Linked DNA regions of Homo sapiens: region 2 is linked to region 1. A link means that fine-mapping ties the variant in region 1 to the expression of a gene that starts in the linked region. Tissue or cell type: visceral fat. Region 1 holds a variant in brackets; the other region holds the start of a gene. All regions are shown on one strand. Distances are from middle to middle.

Region 1 (10,278 bases):
CAGGCTGCAGGGTTGGTAGGAAGGGGAAGCTCCTGGGCACTCTGAGTCTTTTCTTGTCAGCATGTCTTCTTGGAAGGCCATATTCATCTTGGCTCTCTCTCAGACCCTGGAATCTACACAGAACAAAATAATGAGCAGTCCAGGGTCAGGACGGTAAATATGATTTCTAATACTCAACTGGAATGGTAGGTAAACATAAGCAAATTTAGTACCAATTATATTTAGTAGTTGCCACTATTGCTCGTGTATTATGTGTCAGGCACTGTATGATAAGTATGCTGTATCATTTTCTCATGTAATCCTTATGACAAACCAGTAAGTAGGTACAATTATTGTCCCTATATTTTAGTCAAAAAAAACTCCTGGAACTTAAAAAGAAAAAATAGTTTGACCGAGGGCAATAGATTGGTTTTGCACTCAGGTCTGCCAGACACCACGAGAACCTGACCTTTTAACCATCATGTTCTGCCTGGTAAACGTGCTCAAGGAGGGGTTCTAGAATACATGGGAAGGTCAGCCCCTGGCTCATCTGGCAATTAAAGGCAAGGCACTTTCTCATGGAGCTTTGAATTCTCCAGCTGTAAAATTAATGGGTTAGCTCTAAGCCCTTGAATTAACCAGGTAGCCCTGTTTTAGTGGTGAGCTCCCTGTCCCTGGATGTAAGCTTGAAGCATAGCTAGGGAACCACATGGCAACAACATGACAGAAGGGGTTCAATCACAGGACAGCAAGATGGGTCCACACGACCTTTACTGTTCTTTCTTCTATGAGAGTCTTATGCCAATTTGTCTTAAAAATTGAAATTTTCAAATTTTCAAATTGAAAAGGCCAATGCTTGTGCTCCCTAGGACCTGATCTTGCCAATTTTGAGGCTGCTCTATTTGTCTGCTGCAATTTGCTATGGTGACTCAGCAGGAGGCAGGGAGGAGGCACGACAGCCAGCGCTCAGCCTTCCTCCTGAAGATGTTGCTTGGCTAAGGGAGGGGACACTGGGTGGGAGGTCCCCAAGATAATTGCTCTGAATATATTTGTTGCTGATGTTCCCTTTGTCTTCAGCAGGCGCCAGATTTCCCCACTCTAGCCGAGTTCTCACTTGGTTGAACATTCGAACAAACGCCCATTAGGGAAGCTTGTCACTTTCTCATTTGAGGGAAATGTCTGACGCAGAAGGGCAGGTACCACTTAAAATGTCAAGGCAGCAGTGTAGCTAGCAGGTAAATTTCTGTGTAAAACTCCACTTTCTGCTTTGGAGAAAGGAAATGATGTTAGGATTCTTGTATGGCAGTCAGCCACGAAGACTATCTTGAGCTGGAGAGGAAGGGGTAAATGATCTCAGTAATCCAGACAGTTCTTTCATCAGTTTAAGATTCCAGTGCTTACTCCCCCAAACCCCAACATTTCTGGTCTTCATTCAAGGCACCCTGTTCTCCTTCCAAGGCTCCTCTTCATATTCCCCATTAATCAACACTTCTTCCATCATTACCTCCCCTATCTCTACAGCAATGTCCACATTCCTCTCAGAATAATGTCCTAACTTATCTTCCTGACCCTAACTTCTCTGAGTGACAGTCTATTCTACAGGCAGTCCTCAACATCAGCTTCCCAGCATAGAAAATTTCAATGGTTTCTTGAGTGTTTACAGAAAACAAAAGACACCTCCCCAACAACCCCCAAGCCTAACACTTATGAGTGCTTGCTGCATGATGCCAGGTGCTTCATGCATTAACTTGTTTTTCACAACAGCACTATGAGTTGGGTACTAATAAGTACATATTACAGCTGAGTAACATGAGGCTGAGATATTAAATAACCTGCTTAAGAGCTCCCTACTTGTAAGCTCCTAACCCAGATTTAAACCAAAGTGGTCTGCATTTTTCTCCCACTTTCTTTTATTATTACTATTCATAGACTATTTTTTAGAGATTTTTACGTTTACAGAAAAACTGAGCAGAAATTATAGTTCCTATATACTCTCTTATCCCCACCTCAGTTTCCCCTAACATCTTGCCTTAGTGTGGTTTATTTATTATAAATAATGAATCTACACTGACACATCATAGTCACCCAGTCCATAGTTTACAGCAGGATTCACTCTTGGTGTTGCACGTTCTGTGGGTTTTGGCAAATGTGTAATGACATGTATCTACCTTATACTATTATACAGAAAAGTTTCACAGCCCTAAAAATGCCCTGTCTCCCACCTATTCATCCCCTCCTTCCTCTCCCCATACTTCTGGCAACCACTGATCTTTTCACTGTCTTCATAGATTTGCCTTTTCCAGTTGTCATATATTTAAAAGCATGCAGTAGTACATAGTCTTTTCAGATTGGCTTCTCTCACTTAGCAATATGCATTTAATGTTCCTCTATGTCTTTCTGTGGCTTGATAGCTCATTTCTTCTTCTTCTTCTTTTTTTTTTTTTTTTTGCTGAGTAATATTCTATTGTATGGATGTACCATAGTTTGTTTATCCTGGTATATATTTTTAATTTTTACAATCTATAGCTTCCTTGAAGGCACATTACTTAGGCTGAAGTTTCAGATATTTCCTAATCTGACCCTCGCCTTTCATCCCAATTTTATTCTGACCTCACTGTTCCCTGAACATGACCTTCATTTCTCTGAGCTTTTGCTTGGAGAACATTCCAGGAATGTTCAAGCATGGATAGCCATCACCCCACTGCCATACGGCAGGTGCGGAACCTAAGACCAGACTTAAACCCATTACTGAATTGCATTTCCCAGGGGATTGATTTAGGAATGAGAATGTTACCTAGTGGGAACCAATGAAACCTGCATTGAGAGTTCATAAATTTGAAGCTGAGAGGGTATGAGGAGCAGTGGCAGCTCTATTGTGGCCCAAGGGAGAATGTGTCTGAGAACAGGATCATTTGTGGGAGAAATGAAAAAGAGAAATTAGGTCATAAGGATATAATATACACCCACAATCAAACTGTATTCATGTGCACCTGTACATTCTTTTTCATTCAAGTGTATTTTGGTTGGGTTTCTGATATTTGCTACTACAAGGACTTGCCAATACAGGTGAAGAATGGTAGGTACTATAAGAACAGTATGGCTCAGTTTTCCCAACAGACCATCTGTAGATTCACTATTCATTCAACAGATATTTATTACATATCTATTATGCTCCACATGCTGCACTGAGTGTTGGCCACTGGAAAGGACTAACAAGAGCTTTTTGAAGCACAGAGATAGTGAATCCATGCATACGGGGGTCCCATCTGCACTAACAAACACATTTTTTTAGCAAACATTTATTGTAGGACACATGGGGTGGTGTGAGGGGTTTTTCTGGGTAGCAGTAGCTCAGTAGGCTTACTCCTGACCCAGCTACCTAGAGGCTTTCAGTAGTTTCTAGTTTCTTCCACTCCTGGAAGAATAATGCAGGGCAGGAGTCAACAAAGCCAGACCCCACCACCACTACCACCATCATTGGTGGGAAGGGGTTTCTTCCCCTGCTCAAGCCTAGTTCTGATTGAACTTATGGGTGCCTAAAAATTCATCACCTCTTTGTCTGGCTCCACAGAGAATTCAGCCTAGTGAGCAGGTGATGGGATATGGCAGCATAGAGCCGTTGAGTCAGGGCTCACTCAGGCTGTGATGGGGTTGATAGTGCTTGCTGCATCTGCCCATGGAAGGTATACTTGTAGCTCGTTTTTCTGAAGAGCACTTCCCTTTAATCAAATATGTGGTGCCGCAATTCTGAAACTTTAACATGCATATGGATTTTCTGGACATCTTGTTAAAATGCAGATTCTGATTCAGTAGCTCTGGGGTGAGGCTTGATATTCTGCATTTCTAACAAGCTCCCTGGTGACACTGAGAGTAGCAAGCATGTAAGAAACAGAACATGAATTTATCTTGGGAATATTGCCTGTTTTGTCATTGGGCTTGCTGCCTGATTTCCTTAAAATCTCTGATTGTTTCTTATGCTTTAGAGAAATACTTGCACCTGGCTGAGTTCAAGCATAAATTCCACCTTTAAGTAGGGACATTTTCAACTTGCAATATACTCAAATGAGGGCACCTGAAATCAATAGCGAGGCAAACTATTTAATAACCAATTTAGTTATTCAGTAAATATCTGCTGAGCTCCTACAGTTGCTGGACAGTTGCTCTATTTTGGGATAACAGCCATGAACTAGAAAGACATAGTATTGTCCTCTTGGGACTTCCAGTCTAGCAGTCACAGAGACCAAAACTAAGCAAGCAGACAATCAAATACAATAATTTCAAGTTGTGGTAAGTGCATGGATGGACACTAATAAACGGTTAAGTTTGAGACTAGTAATGGGGAAGGGAGTATTTTAAAATAAGTGGTTGTATTAGTTTCCTATTACTGCTGTACAAAATTGACACAAACTTAGTGGCTTAAAACAACATAAACATATTTTCTTACAGTTCTAGAGGTCAGAAGTTCAAAATCAACTTCACTGGGCTAAAGCCAAGGTGTCTCAGGGCTGCATTCCTCTTGGAGGCTCAAGATTCTCTGCATGACATTCCATTCTGCAGGCAGTTCTGAGCAACAGCTTCCCAGCAAGTAAAATTTCAATGTCTTCTTGAGTGTTTACAGAAAACAAACAACATCTCCACTTCCCCCCCATCCCTAAGCCTAATACTTATGAGTGCTTGCTACACGATGCCAGGAACTACACTAGGCATTAACTTGTTTTTCACAACAGCTCCATCGGGTGGGTAGAAAGAGACATATATTACAGCCGAGTAAGCTGAGGCTGAGAGATTAAATAACCTTCCTAAGAGTTCCCAACTTGCAAGTGCCTGACCCAGATTTAAACCAAAGGGGTCTGCATGTTTTTCTCTCTTTCTTATTACTATTCATAGACTTTATTTTTTAGAGAAGTTTTAGGATTACAGAAAAGGTCAGATTCTGGAGGGGAAAATTCACTTTTCCAGCTTCTAAAGGCCACCTGAATT[T/C]CTCAGTTCAGGGCCGCTTCCTCACATCATGCCAACCTCTATATCTGCTGTTAAATCTGTTTCTCTCACTCTGCCTTTCCCACCCTCCTCTTATAAGAACTTCTGCAATTACATCAGGCTCACCAGGACAATTCAGGATAATCTGCCCATCTCAAGATACTTAATCACATCTGCAAAGTTCCTTTTGCCATGTAAGGTAACACATTCACAGGGTCTGGGGATTAGGATGTGGGCATCTTCAAGAGGGGGAGTAGGCATTATTCTATTTATTACAGGAGTCAAGAAGGCCTCTCTGAGGAAGTGGTATTTAAGCAAAAGGCTTAGTACAAGTCAGACATGGGCAGACTAGAGGAAATAGCTTTCCCAAAGGAGGAAACAGTAAGAGCAAAGGCCCTGAAGAAGGACGGGGCTTTTTAAGTACAGGGACTGGAGAGAATGCTAGCATGGGGGAGCAGAGAGTCAGACAAGACGAGAGTGGAGCAGCAGGCAGAGGCCTGACCCTGTGGGCTGTAGTGAGGGCTTTGGATTTTATTCTAAGTGTGATTAGGAGCCATTGAAAAGCCTAAGCAGGTTATTGCAGTGATCTGATTTGTGTCTGAAGGGGTGACTACTACTTGGCTTGAGCTCATTCTTCCCATGTAGGAATGCCAGCCCAGTGTGGCCAGGTCTTCTGACTTTTCAGGGAAAGGTGCAAATCTGAATATTTCTAATGTTAAACCCTCCATTTAAAATTATTGAAGCCAGCCGGGTGCGGTGGCTCACGCCTGTAATCCCAGCACGTTGGGAGGCCGAGGCGGGTGGATCACGAGATCATGAGATCGAGACCATCCTGGCCAACATGGTGAAACCTCATCTCTACTAAAAATACAAAAATTAGCTGGGTGTGGTGGCACATGCCTGTAGTCCCAGCTATTTGGGAGGCTGAGGCAGAGAATCGCTTGAACCCAGGAGGAGGAGGTTGCAGTGAGCCAAGATTGTGCCACTGCATTCTAGCCTGGCAACAGAGCAAGACTCCATCTCAAAAATAAAATAAAATAAAATAATTAATAAAAATAAAACAATTAGCTGGGAGTGGTGGTGGGTGCCTATAATCCCAGCTACTCAGGAGGCTGAGGCACGAGATTCACTTGAATCCAGGAGGTGGAGGTTACGGTGAGCCAAGATCGTGTACTGCACTCCAGCCTGGGCAACAGAGGGAGACTCCGTCTCAAAAATAAAAAAAAAAATTATTGAAGCTATACTGGAAAATTTTAAGGTACACACGCAGGTCAGGTTTGGCCAGGAGCTACAGGGACACCTTCTCTGAAGAGGCTCTGCTACATACTTGCTGCATGACGTGGGGTGAATGACCAAACCTTCTGAGCCCCAGGTTCCTGGTTTGTACAATGGAGAATAATGGTGGTTATTGCAGAGGGTTGTTGTAAGGATTCAGAGTATATCAATGACAGAATACATATAAAATACTTAGCATAGTGCCTATAAGCATCCAATATGCGCATATCCATGTATATGTATTTTTTAATTTGAGGGGATTACATGAAAATTGGAAAATAGATGGCCTTTAAAATTGCTTCTGGCTCTGAGATTCTAAGATGATTAAAAATGTCCTTATTAATCAGACCATATATTTAATAGTGACCTTGAGTTGCCTTTCCTAGCCTGGATTTAATTTCCTTATCCAGTATGCATTGTACAGAATGCATCTTTGGTAAGATGACAATGGACTCTAAGACAACTATGTTTGATGGCAAAACCCACTGCAGTGAGGAACAAAATTCTCTGTTGTTGATTACACACAAAACCAAGGAGTAGAGCCCCAGTGATCATGTAGCTAGAGATCCAGCAACTTTTCAGTTTGCCCTTTTCCTCAAGGGCTTTGGAGTTGTGCTTCTGACAATTCATGTGGTTCTTTCCTCCTTTCTACCCAGTAGAGAGGAATCTGGGAAAGGGATGGACATGTGTAGCTCATTGCCTGAATGTGGGCAGGTGAGCTGGAAGCTTAAAGGCTTTTGCTCAAGAGGACATCGTCTGAGAATCATGCTAGGTATCTCTTATCTCCAGGACCCAATGCAGTAAAGTATGGAGCAGAATCAGAGCAAGACTGATCCCAGGCAGAGCTCCAGGCAGGAGTGGTTGTCAACAGGCACTGGAGGATGTGCTGGGTTTAAATCTTATCAACCAAGAGCAATTCTTGCAAATGACAGTGACAGATAAATTGCTTGACTTCTTGGAATACCACCCAAGGACACTTGGGCACAGAAACACACCCACATGCACACAGAATTTTGATTTCTTTATCAAGCTTCAGAAAAGTTGGAAAGATAAAGAGCCATCCTTGATACCAACACATCTCTTTCTCTAATTGAACATCCCCAGCAGGAGTCTGAGGTCACAGCACTAAGCCAGATGGCCCCAAATTTTCTGAATCTGACTTTTCAATATCTCTAATAGTGTGAGGAAACTGCACAGTACCATACAGACATCAGGCATGTATTCTAATGTTACTCTTGCCCTGGGATGGCATTCACTCAGTGAGCTTCAGTGTTCAAGACTGGCCACTAGGCTTCTTTGTTTGCAAATTGCGGATTGGCTCAAGTTAACTCAGGCCCAAAGGGGACCTGGTGGAAGACTGTGGGGCTGACAGAATCAAAGGAAAGGTGGGCACCTCAAGCAGGGCTAGCAGAGGGATCCAGGGCAAGAATGGACTCACTCCCTAGGGACTCCATCTGGTGAGTCTGTGCCATGGTTTTCAGTTCCTGGTGATTGTGCTCAGGATTTAAATCCCTGAGAGGTTCTCATGGCATGAATTAGCTCTTTCCTTGGCCAGAGAATGGCCAGCACTAACAGGCCCGCCAGACTGCATGGTATGGGAAAGGAAGTTTCTTCAGAGAAACATTGATGTACTATTAGCAATAGAACGGGAAGAAGGCAGGCAAGCAGAAACAACAGATGTCTGCTGCAAAGGCCTTGCCCAAAAGAGGTTCCGGCCGTCCCTGCTGTCCCAAGTCCCATGACTCCTAGCGCACACTATCCCCTCTTCTTTACTATTAGGTTGGTGCAAAAGTCCTTGTGGTTTTTGCCATTTCTTTTCAATGGCAAAAACTGCAGCACCAACCTAATATATTCCCCCTTCCTCCAGTTCACACCCTGCACACACCAGGATAGTTCACACCCTGCACACACCACGATAGTTCACACCCTGCACACACGATAGTTCACACCCTGCACACACCAGGATAGTTCATACCCTGCACACACCAGGATACCCTTGCTGCCTACCTCTGCAGGGTCCCCAGGCCCATGTCATATGAGGTGGACCCTTGTGGATCTCTGCCTATGATGCATCATGGTTTGGTTTAAATTGATTGACATGGCACAACGAATAAGGTTTATTGAGGAAATGGAAAACTTACAAAGCTGGTGCTTCTATACTTCACAGGGAGGAGCCATTTCTGGGCCTGCAGTAAGGATCTGATTGCCAGTAGGGACCAAGTGGGCCCTGTTCTTCTCCCATTTGTAGACCAAAAGTGAGAAAACAGTCTTTGAAGAGGGTGGAACACATAGGCTACTCGGTGCTATCAGTCCAGAATTATGGGGCCAACCATGTAAAGAAATAGTGTGGGGACACCAGCTGTCCTGCAATTCATCTTACGGTGCATAGAAAATTAGAGTCCTCCCTCCCAGGTGAAGGAAGCCAGCAGTCCTGTAGAAAGCTGAGTGTGGGGGCAGCCCTTCTGGTGTGGAGAAGGAGGGGGGATCCTGGTCCTAGCTAGCTTGTTTTCGGGCAACCCAGGACGGACAATTCTCCTAGCTGCGCCACACATACCCAACTTATAGTTCCTTCACTGATACACACTCCCAAGCTCTAATACCCACAAATTAGACATCTTCCATTTCTCTGAACACCTTATTAGGGTTCCCTTGAGAATTTTCCCTCTCTTTCCTATGTTGGTCTTTATTCATCTCCTCCGAGCCTCATACCCTAGATTTTAGAGGCCCATGTTCCTGTCTTCTCTACTGGACTATAGTCTTATCAAAGGTATTTTCCATATGCCTCTTACCTTTGTAATTTTGTCATTAATTAAGTGTTTGATCCAAATAGGCCCTCCACACAACATAGAGTTGATGAAAGAGTGAATGAATGGTTCAGCTGCAAGATGTAAATCTACTCAGAAATGAAATGAGGATGGATCATCCAAAGTAGCTCTCTAAGAAATGTGAGGAGGCGGTATGGATGACAACACTACCAGGGATAGATGAATGGCAGGAAACCTTGTATGGTTTTGGGGGTGGAGTGGTAGAGATGGTGTTGTTGAAAACATTGATTCCCTCAACGAATATTGTCGGTCATCTTCTACACATCAGACCCTGGGCAAATCCATGGAATATACCAGTGAATAAGGCATTTAGGATCCTTAACCTGAAAATGTAACAGGATATTCTTTAACTTCCTTTAAACCCTTAGAATGAGTTTTCTTTGCTTCACTAAGTCCTTAATACTCCAAGATAAACTGGGCTGTCTCAGATCCAGATTTACTAGTGCATGACATTGAATCAGAGGGAAACCTGGACCAAAAGGTGCCTGTATTTGTTAAAGATTAAAAAAAAAATAATAAAAATCTCGTTTCTTTCTGTCTTTTAATCTGCACACATTCACATGGTTGGTCACATGGAAGTTGAGTCAAGATTTGCTCTGCACAAGCCAGTTATTATGCCAGAGTCACAGCAGGGGGTGGCATTGTTTTGACAGACTCACAGGCTCCAAAATGTAAATGGCTTAAATGTAACATGCCAGCTCTGTGAGCTGTCACTCAGAAAGTGCTCAAACCTTTCATCTGTCCAGAGTGAAGTCTGATCAACGGTTGGGTAGGGGGTCTGGCTTCAGGTCCATGCCTCTCTTACTCTCCAGCTCTGGGTTTGGGAGAGAGATGGGAGACAGAAGGCACTGGATTATTTTGAAAACCTTAGCTTCATCACTAAGAATAAAGCTTAGAGATTGTAAAGCATAGGGCCCCCTTTTCTATAGCTAGTATGGGTGAGGAGCCTTATTAGTGCCTTCTCTAATCACTTTGTTGGTTCAGTTCCCTATCCATCCTCACTTTAGTCACCCATTTGGATTAAGGAGCCCCACAGGAGGGAAGCTCCTTTTCCTATTGGTCACTGACATATGGAGGGAAAAAGTGGGGGTTACACACACCATATGTCAGTTAGTTTAGGAATGTTGGTTTCTGTTTCACAAATGCATGTTTAAGTCACAGGTGTTTGAATGAGGATCAAGAACTACACAGTTGATTGAATGATTCATTTATTTTTAAAACC
Region 2 (10,278 bases), 54 kb after region 1:
GTTTCTCCATGTTGGACAGGCTGATCTTGAACTCCCAACCTCAGGTGATCTGGCTGCCTCGGCCTCCCAAAGTGCTGGGATTACAGGCGTGAGCCACCGCGCCCAGCCTATATTACCTTTCTTCAGCATTAATAAATAAAAATGTAATAGATAAGTGTAAGACTCAAGTTTAATCCAACTCCTTTTTCATCTTTCAGGTATACAGAATGTAAGCTTTGCTAGGATCATAAAGAATCAGAAATGTGGATGATTTTACCCCAGAAAACCATGTTGAATATTGACTATATTATTTTTAAAAAAGAGAAGAGCCTATAGCTGTCACCCCTAACAGATTGTCTTGTTGCCGTTCCTGCCAACTTCTGAGGGAAGAAATATTTCCATTCTGTTCCAATTTTCAACACAAATAAGGAAGTAATATGGCTGATTTCCGTTCTGGTGACTCAATATTAAGTTGGCTGAGGAAACTGATGTTTGCAGAAATAGTTCTGGGAAAATGCAAAGCAGGGAAACACATTGATGCCCAGGTGGTATTTTTTTTTTTTAAACTCCAATTATATTGGGATATTAGTGCTTCATTCTCTATAATCAAATGTGTTCTAGGCTGCATTTACAGCTCATCCACCCTTCTCTGCCTGCACTGTCACACTTGGAAAACGGACCAGTTCCTACAGCAGGCACACAAATTGACAAAGCAGCATTCTGAATCGGCAAAGGGGAGAAAAAGCAAATGAAGAGCAGGTTGTTAGCACTACCCTACCCTTTGCAAAGAATAAACACAAAGTTGTTCTGCCTAGACTCAAGCATTATTATAGGGATCTGTAACTAAAAAAGGTTAGTGACATTCAAACAGAAATCACTATCCTGAGGGCCATTTACTCAAAAGTTTCTAATTAAAATAGCCTTTATATTACTACCTTGGAGCTATCACATACCCCATAACTAGCATTTGGTCAGTCTGAGCTCAAACTTCAACATATCTTCTGGCACCTGGAGAAACATCGTCTGTATTTATCAGAGCTTTGCTTTAAACCCAGGATTATTTCAGTTATACCCATAACTTATATCCTTTTTGCCATAGGTATATTTGCTGAATAGCTACTGGATGCAAATGACAAAAACATCAATGAAACAGGCTTAGATTTATGATCTTCCCAGGCCATTTTTCCCCCTCTATAGTCTGAAACATCTCTATTTGAAACTCAGTCTAGTTAAAACAGAACTCCTCTTACCCTCAGATCTACTTGTTCAGCTTATGAACAGCTTAGATAATAGCCAGACAATTCTTCCAGTTTTGCAGTATCAAAATTGTAAGACAATCATGGCTCAGTGGTTAGGAGAATGGGCTCTAGAGTTAAGGTGCCTGATCCTACCCCTGGGTGAAGCCATAGGCTTGCAAGGCCTTAGTTTTCACATTTATTAAATAAAATAATATTAACAGTAACTGCATCATAGGGTAGTTTTGAGGATAAGATGAACTAATGTGGGTAAATTATAAATATATGCTATTGTTATTATTCCACCTCCTACACATTTTTCAATTAAGTCCTGTTGTCTCTGTCCTAACTCATATCCTTTTATCTCACCTGGGTATACCACACTATCCCCTTAATTTCAGAATGGATCTCCTTAACTCCTTTTACCTCTATGATGTATCCAAACACTGTGACACTCAGAATTGGTCCTAAACACAAATCTGAGCAATTCAGGGTAATTTTACAATCTACTGGTGATTTCTCACTGCCCATGAGATAAGCTTAAAATTCCAATTTGGCATTGTAATTCTCCAAGAATAGATTCAGGCAGCAGAACAGAAAGTCATGAGAAGCCCAGAGGTGCCTCTATGTACGATAATTGCTTGCAGGAGGAATGAATGGATTTAAACATTAAGTCTGGTCTTTAGTTTTACCTCTATCACAAATTAGCTATGATGTGCTCCAGTGGTTTTAGTTTCCTCACCTAGAGGCTGATTATCATTATCATTCGTTTCTTTGCTTAAATCCTATAATCTACCCAGCTTTCCTGCCATGGCTGAAAGCCTAAACTACGCTTGTTTTACTTTATTCTCTCTAAATAACTTTTCACCTTACTAGTTGTTCCTTTTGCTTAAAAATCTTTCTGCCCCTTCCCGTCAATATCTTTCTGGGGGAAACTGTACCCTCTCTATAATATTCAACTCTAATTTCATCTTATTCAGGAAACCCTCTCATGCCCACCCTCTTGTCAGATGAGTTTTTTTTTTTTTTGCTCTGTCAGTCCCCTAGCACATTAAGAGTACGCCATTATAAGACTTATCAGTTTTCCTCTTAGCAGTTAGTTATCCGTTCAAAAGACTGTAAGCTTATGAATGATAGAGTCTAAAAACCTTCTGTCCTTAGCACAGGGCCACTGCCTGTGGCAAGTGCTCAAAATTTTGAGTTCAGACACTCATCGACTTGGTAGTGTGAAAGGTGTCTGCTACAAACTTATTAACTTTCCAGAGCTTCAGGCTCTGGAAACTATTGATGGAGAGAGGTGAAGATAAGAAAGACACCTATCTTGAGTTTTAGTAGGCAGAACACTCTAGAGAATCATTTGACTGGTTTTCTCACTCTGTAATTTTCAGACCATTTATATCAAATTAATTTGTGGTGCTTGTTAAAGATGCAGATTTCTTGACCCCACAGACTTATTGAATTGGGATCTCTAGGGGATGCCTGGGCATCTGCATTTTTAATGTGCATATAGGTTTATTGATTTACAAATCAAACTCATATTTCTTTTACTGGCATGACAATCACCGTAATTCAGTGTAATTCTCAAAAGTGTGGTGCAGGAACTCCTGGGTGTCCCTGACACTGTTTCAAAACAATTTACATAATATTAGGACATATCCCTTTTTCACTCACATTCTCACACAATATGGCACAATTTTCTAAAAGTTACATGATGATTGATATTGTAAGAGAATGAAGGTAGAAGTTACGAAAATCTAGCTGTCTTTTATTCAGCCAGACATTAAAGAGATTTGTAACAATGTAAAACAATGCCATTCTCAATAATTTTTCATTTTGGAAAATATCCTTTACAGAAATGCTATCTATGTTAACATATAATGAGTTTATTTTAAAATGAATAACCTTTGTTGAAAGTTGTTTTCTAAAATAGTAAATATTGATAGCTATTATAAACAAAAACCCTTTGAAGTTCTCAATACATTTTAAAAGTATAAAGAAATTCTAAGATCAAAAAGTTTGAGAACTGCTGCTATAATTATCAGCAGCATTTAAAAAATAAGTGGCTTCCCAAGATTCCATACTTTAGCCCCAAATTCTATGCATTTTCCATTACAACAGAAAATCAGAGGAAATGATCCATTTTATATTTAAGCAGGGGTTTTTTTGTTGTTGTTTTTTGGAATTTTAACAAGCTTCCAGGTGATATTGATGAACCTAAATTTAGAGAACCACTGTCAAAAGCAAAGGAAAATATCTGAAGAGTTTTAGAAGTGACAATTACTCTTATCTGGGAATTAAGATGATAATTCCGAGGGCATTAAATGGAGTTGGAAAACATGAGTTCTTAAAGGCTAAGTCCCTTCACCTCTCTGGGATTCAGTTTTTCTTATCTGTACAATAAGATTGATTTTAATATTTTACTAGCTCTGTCAGTCTGGATTTCATGCATTTTCACTGCTCGAGGGCAACAGAAGAGTTGCATCTTTCTGATGAGGTCCCAGGAGTAATCTTAGAGTCATAAATCAGATCATGTCATTCATCTGCTTAGAAACCTTCAATGGTTTTCCACTGGATTCCAAACAAAAATCAAACTCTTTATCCTTGCTCATAAGCCTTACAAGATTTGGGCTCAAGTCCCTGGCCTCATCTCTCTCCATTCTCACCTTGCTCCTTTTGCTCTAGCCAGTGGCCTTTGTCTTTTCCTTGACTTTGCTAAGTTTGTTCCCACTATATGGCCTTTGCACGCGCTATTCTCTCTGCCTGGAATGCTCTATTCCAGATTTTCATACGGCTTATTACTCTCCCACTTCGTTCCATCACATTATCCAGTCTAAATTTCTTTACAGCACTTACTACCACCTTAGATAATCCCGTTTGTTGACTTGTTTATAATCTGCTTTTCGCACTGCTTGAGAGCAGGGCCCTTCCGTTCGTTGACTGATGTGTCCCTGGAGCCCAGGGCAGTGCCTGGCAGGTATCTGGCTCTCAGTAAGTGTTCGATGACCGAACTCCCACACCCAGGCCAGACTTTCAAAAGAATGGCAAACATTTTCGCCTCCTGCACTCCCGACCCCAAGCCACAGGCTACGACTCACGCCTCGGCGCTCCTAGTAGTCCCCTCGCAGCGACCCCAACCAAGCCGTCACCTACCCGACCGCCGTCTAGCTCCTTCCGGCCTCAGCGGCGGCTTAACTCGGAAGTTTTCTCGGACACACCGGCACGCCTCTGCGCTGAAGGAGCACTTCCGGGGCAGTAGGAACGCCGAGTCGGCTGCCGTGGCTGTGCTGAGGGTGGCGGCCGGATAGGTGCGGAGCTTCCTGAACGAGGCAGGAGGGGTGCGAGGTTCAGGGGCAGGGCCCGGGCAGCCGAAGTCGTTAGGGAGGCGGTGACCTGACGGTGGGCGGCGGACATCTCGCGGCAGGGTCGAGGGCTGTGAAAGCGGTTTAGTGATTGAAGCGCTACGTTTGTGTGAGGAATTCTTGTCGTTGTCAGCGCCTGAGAACTTAGTTGGGAGCGGACGTTTACGTCGAATCTCTCGTTTGGGACCCCATTCTTGAATGTGGGAAGAAGTGAGAGCGCATGTTTGCTCATCTAGAGACAGCCGTATTAATAACGATAGGATACAAACCATCACCCCACCAAGTGATAGCAGCTGTTAACCTGTGGGCGGTTACGTGCCGGTCACTGTTCCAAGCCCCTCACATATCGCGTCACTGAATCTTTATAGGGACCCAGAACTCCATTTGACAGATGAGGAAACGGAGAGGCAGACAGGTGACCTGACTTCCCCACAATCGCTGCAGGACAGGAAGAAAGTAAACTCCAGAGCCCGTGCTCTTAGCTACTAAGCTGTACTGCTCTTCATTTTGGTAAATGGGGCGGGTGGAGTGTATATATACGTAATATATATGTGTGTGTGTAAGCGTATGCGTTTTTATTTCTTAAAAATATGGCTCAGCCGTATTTATTTACAGTTATTGGAATCTTTCTCCTCCAACTGAGAAAATAACTGGAGGAGAAACTACAATTATTTCTACACGCTTACTACACAATGCCTGGAAGACTTACAAAAACACTAAATAGTGCAGTTCCACGTACTTGGTGTTTATTCCTTTTTTTTTTTTAACCTTTCTCCTAGATTATGAATGAGTTGAGGAAAGAGATGGTACAGTCATTCTAATAACGATAGTAATGATAATATAAACAACCATCACCATAAAAAATTCTCTTCTGGCTTAGCTCAAATATCTGGCACAAATGAAAGAATAGAGATAACCAGTGTTTAATATTTTAGTAAAGGGACTGTTTTGGCAGGGCATGGTGGCTCACGCCTGTAATTTTAGCACTTTGGGAGGCTGAGGCAGGGGAAGATTGCTTGAGGCCAGGCCTAGGGTTCAAGACCAACCTGGCCAACATAGCGAGACCCTGTCTTTAAAAATATATTTTGGAGTATGTCCTTCCAGTCTTTCATGGAATTATATGAATTTATGTAATATGTATATTATATATTCTACATATAGTATACTGTATATATTTATGATGATGATAATGATGCGTTGCAACCTGGAGAGAGCATAAGGAAAAGATAGGAAACATTTATTCATATACACAAAACATTAATTGAACTTTGTGCAAAAACTGTCTCGTCTTTCCTATTAGATAGGCCCTTGGAGTGAATGGCTTACATTAGTTCTCTATCTCCACAGGTACTGTGGTACTACTTGGTACGTAGTAGGTACTCAAAAAATGTTTGCGAGTGAATGAATGGCTACTTCTAAGTTGGTTTGTATGTCAGTGAGTAGTTGTATCTGGATTTTTTCTCTATGTGTTTTGGAAATGTGTAATGTGTTTATATTATATGCCCATATATTCTGAACTCCATAGTGTTGTCTTAATCTACCTTTCTAGCTTCATGCCTTCCCATTGTTCTTCTCTCTGCCATGGTAACTACTCCCTACTGTAACTGTCCATGTTCCATACTGTCAGACCTCAGGCCTTTGGCTGTACCCTCATGTTATTTCCATATCCTTGAATCCTGTCATTGGCATCATCATCTGTCAAAATCATAAGCTTCTTTTAAGGCAGGTGTTGCCAACTCAGATGCCTACAGAGGTTAATCAGGTAGCATAATTTGAGTGAAGTGGATTTGCGTGGGGGATTGTAGGGAGCTGGAGAGCAACTGCCCTAGCTAAAAGGGCCCAGCGGCTATTTAGCACAAGCTAGTTATTACAGAGTTGAATGTGGGCCCGGTGTTGCTAGATCTTTTAATTTTACAAGTTAGAAGTTGGAAGCCTATATTTTTATATGAAGTCTGATTTTTAAATGTTGGCATCTAGTTTTTGCAAAGGTTAAATACTGTGCAGGCCAAATAAAAACATCTGTAGGCTGGATTTGGCACTTAAATTCCCAGTTTGTGACCACTACTCTAGGCTTATTTCAGGTACTTTGTTCATGAATTACGTTGTCTGATTCTAATGGAGTTCTGTTTTTTTTCAGCATTTTGTGTGTTGGATGGTCTGGCAGGGATGTTTCAGCATTTTGTGTGTTGGACTGAATGCAGCACCTGTTATAGTGCTGCATCCAGTCTGCCTTAGTTTTAATATGCCTTTCTTTTCTAATACATTAGAAACATTTTGATAGCATGGGTTGGGTCTAATTCTGCACTTAGTACATATCAGTACATACCTACAGCGTGTGTGTACATATGTGTGAGATGTATTGATTTCTACTCTGATAATCCTTGGTTATCCTGGAAACTAGTGTCTGTTCTTTGTAGAGACACCAATAGTATCTTGGCTTTAATTGCCAAAGAGCTCTACATCTGGAAGGAATTGAATTGAGTAACACTGGTATTCAAAAGTTGATCTGACATAAAGCCAATCTGATGGCTTAAATTTCATGATGTCCTGGAAAAATTGAGGTAGGAATGATTAATAACTAGTAAGATTTTTAAGGACAATAAGTAAAAGGAAAAATTGATAAATTATACCTCATTAAAATTAAAGACTTGCTCTGAAAGGCCCAATGAAGACAATTAAAAGATAAGCTACATACTGGAAAAAAATATTTGCAAACCACATATTATACAGAATATATGAAGAGCTCTCAAAACTCAACAGTAAAAAAAAAATCTCATTAGAAAATGGGCAAAAGATACAAAGATATTTCACTGACAAGGATATACAGATGGCATATAGGCACATGAAAAGATGTTCAACCTTATTAGGTCTTAGAGAAGTACAACTTAAATCCACAATGAGATATCACCACACAACTGTCAGAATGGCTCAAATAAAAAATAGGGACAATGTCAAATGCTGGCAAGAATGCAGAAAAACTTATCAGTCATACATTGCTGGTGGAAATGTAAAATGGTGTAGCTAGTCTGGAAAAGAGTATGGCAGTTTCTCATAAAACTAAACATGAACTTAACCATATGACCCAGCAGTTGCACTCTTGGTCATTTACCCCAGAGAAATGATAGCTTATGTTCCCCCAAAAACCTATACATGAACTTTCATAGCTGTTTTATTTATAATAGTCCCAAACTGGAAACAATACAGATATCCTTCGATGGATAAATGGGTAAATTGTGATACATCTATACTATGGAATACTACTCAGAAATAAAAAGGAAGGAATACTAATACAACTTAAATGGATCTTGAGGGGCTTATGCTGAGTGAAAAAAGTCAATGTCAATAGGTAATATGCTGTATGATTTCATTTATATAACATCTTGAAATGACAGAATTACAGAGATGGAGGACACCTGTCCATCAGAGAGATCAGTAATTGCTTTGGGTTGGAAGGAGTGTCGGAAGTGGTTATGGCTAAAAAAGGATAGCACAAGGGATCCTTGTGATTGAACTGTTCTGTATCTTGATTGTGGTGATAGTCACACAAAGGTATACATGCGATAAAATTTTATAGAACTAAATACAAATGAGTGCGTTTAAAACTGATAAAGTCTGAATGAGATCAGTGGATTGCATTGATATCAGTTTCCTGGTTGTGATATTATATTTGTGTAAGTTTTACCATTGGGGGAAACTGGATGAAGGTATATGGGATCTCTGTATTATTCCTTATACTTGTATGTGAATCTATGATAATCTCAAACTAAAAAGTTTAAACAAATACTTTATACCAAAGAAGCCTATATAAATTTTTTTTGGGCTTTCATTTTACCAGCTGATGTTCTAATCATGTCAGATAAAGATGATATTGAGACTCCACTGCTAACTGAAGCAGCCCCCATCCTTGAAGATGGAAACTGTGAGCCAGCCAAGAATTCTGAGTCTGTTGACCAAGGTGCCAAACCAGAGAGTAAATCAGAACCTGTAGTTTCCACTCGGAAAAGACCAGAGACCAAACCTTCCAGTGACCTTGAGACTTCAAAAGTTCTCCCTATTCAGGTATCACAGACCACAGAAAAAGTAGGGTATCTATTAAAATATTAGGATTAAAAAATGTTGGGGCTAAAAGAAATTTGGCATAAATACCAATTTAGAATTGCTCTTATTTCTTTCTCTTTACAACCCTAAAATACAGTCTTTTCAGTTCTATAAATGCCTTTATGAATAATTGCTTTTGCTATGTGGTACTTACATGCTGATAGCATATATCTGCCAGTCAAGCAATACATTTCTTTAGCTAAATAATATGTATTTGTTCACCCATGCTTTTGGCTAATAATTAGATACCTTGTCTGTACATTCTGATTTTCCTCTAATTTTTTCATTTTTCTTTGCCTTTTGTTTTTCTGCCTACTGGGAAATTAGGATAATGTTTCCAAAGATGTACCCCAGACCAGATGGGGTTATTGGGGGAGCTGGGGCAAGTCCATACTCTCCTCAGCCTCGGCTACAGTAGCTACAGTAGGTAAGATCATCAGTCATTTAGTTATTTTTGTGTGTGTATTTATTTTATACAGATCTGCATTGCATATGACTTGGTTAAAATTCTTCTTCCTTCCATGTTTACTCAAAGGCTTTATAATTTGAGGATGCATTAGTAATGATGGGCTGATATATACTGCCACTAGAGTTTGTAGCATTTCCTCATTAGAATATTGAAGTCTAGGAATTATTACTGTGAACTTATTCTTTGGTGATGATGAATCAATTTTTTTAAGGAAATAGTGCCAAGATTAGTTATGTATTGTCAAAATAACATGTCTTGTGGTCCTAAATGATTTTAAAAATCTTCAAGTTTGATTTTTGTTTCTTCAGTTTTGGTGACAAATAGCAAAAAAAAAAGTTATTTTTCTCATTAGGACAAGGCATTTCAAATGTCATCGAGAAGGCAGAGACTTCCCTTGGAATCCCTGGTCCCAGTGAAATTTCAACTGAAGTCAAGTATGTAGCAGGTCAGTATATGGAAACATAAAGACCTAGAATTATGAATTGAAATGGAACAGTTGAACTAATTTTTCAGTAGGTATTTATTGGACATCTGATACTCAGGGCATCGTGGGACTGTAGTGAGAAAGAGTATTTAGAATCTTTAGTTCCCAATTAGACATCTATGTCCTTTAACTGCTTATGTGTCCCTTTACTTCACTTTCCACATCTGAAATAGAATGATATTTTATATCTCAAGTGACTGTTATAAACATTTAACAAATAAGGCCATGAATATACAATATAAAAATTGCTTAGCATTTTGCTTGGCATAATTGAATAAGAGACTAATAAGAGTTAGCTGAATCTGAGTCTGTTGTGACATGATAAAAATATTTTAATGTATTGTTTTGGGGGTGTATTCCTTTTGTGTTCAGATTTTTATGAAGACTACGTTTAATTCTAGAGGCTAGCCTTGATCAGACAGAAACCTACTCTCAAACTATGAAGGCTAGAATTATAACCAGAAATCGAGAGGGCCTGGGACCAGAAAATAGGAATCTTTTCAAGGCCTGGTTTGCATTCTTCATCTCTCATGGGCTTTATTGTCTCTCACTCTTGTTTCTTTTTGCTGATCTGTCTCAGTTTTTTTCTTGAAGCAGACTGACTTTCGCTGCTTATTTTCCTCAGCTCCAGCTTTATATTGAATCCTGGCATCA

Alleles and levels. Alleles are on the strand shown, and positions count from the first base shown. SD is a standard deviation of normalised expression in the study named.
With allele T in place of C in region 1, the expression in visceral fat of the gene that starts at base 4,466 in region 2 is higher (small effect, 0.16 SD a copy in GTEx).

What was found. PIP is the estimated chance that this variant, and not a neighbour inherited with it, causes the effect.
Region 2: FAM114A2 starts here. The variant in region 1 is fine-mapped to the expression of FAM114A2 in visceral fat (GTEx, PIP 0.93).

The regions. Positions count from the first base shown.
Region 1 is chr5:154,086,859-154,097,136 of GRCh38, reverse strand. No RefSeq gene overlaps it. Among named protein-coding and RNA genes, the nearest start is that of MFAP3, 53 kb to the right of the region's middle. The variant T/C (reference allele first, on the strand shown) is at 4,960.
Region 2 is chr5:154,033,098-154,043,375 of GRCh38, reverse strand. It overlaps FAM114A2 (family with sequence similarity 114 member A2), which reads left to right and starts at 4,466. Exons shown (of 14, transcript NM_018691.4): 1 at 4,466-4,519; 2 at 8,409-8,632; 3 at 8,999-9,098; 4 at 9,493-9,585. The coding sequence starts at 8,423. It overlaps MFAP3 (microfibril associated protein 3), which reads right to left and starts at 4,409. Exons shown (of 3, transcript NM_005927.5): 1 at 4,365-4,409.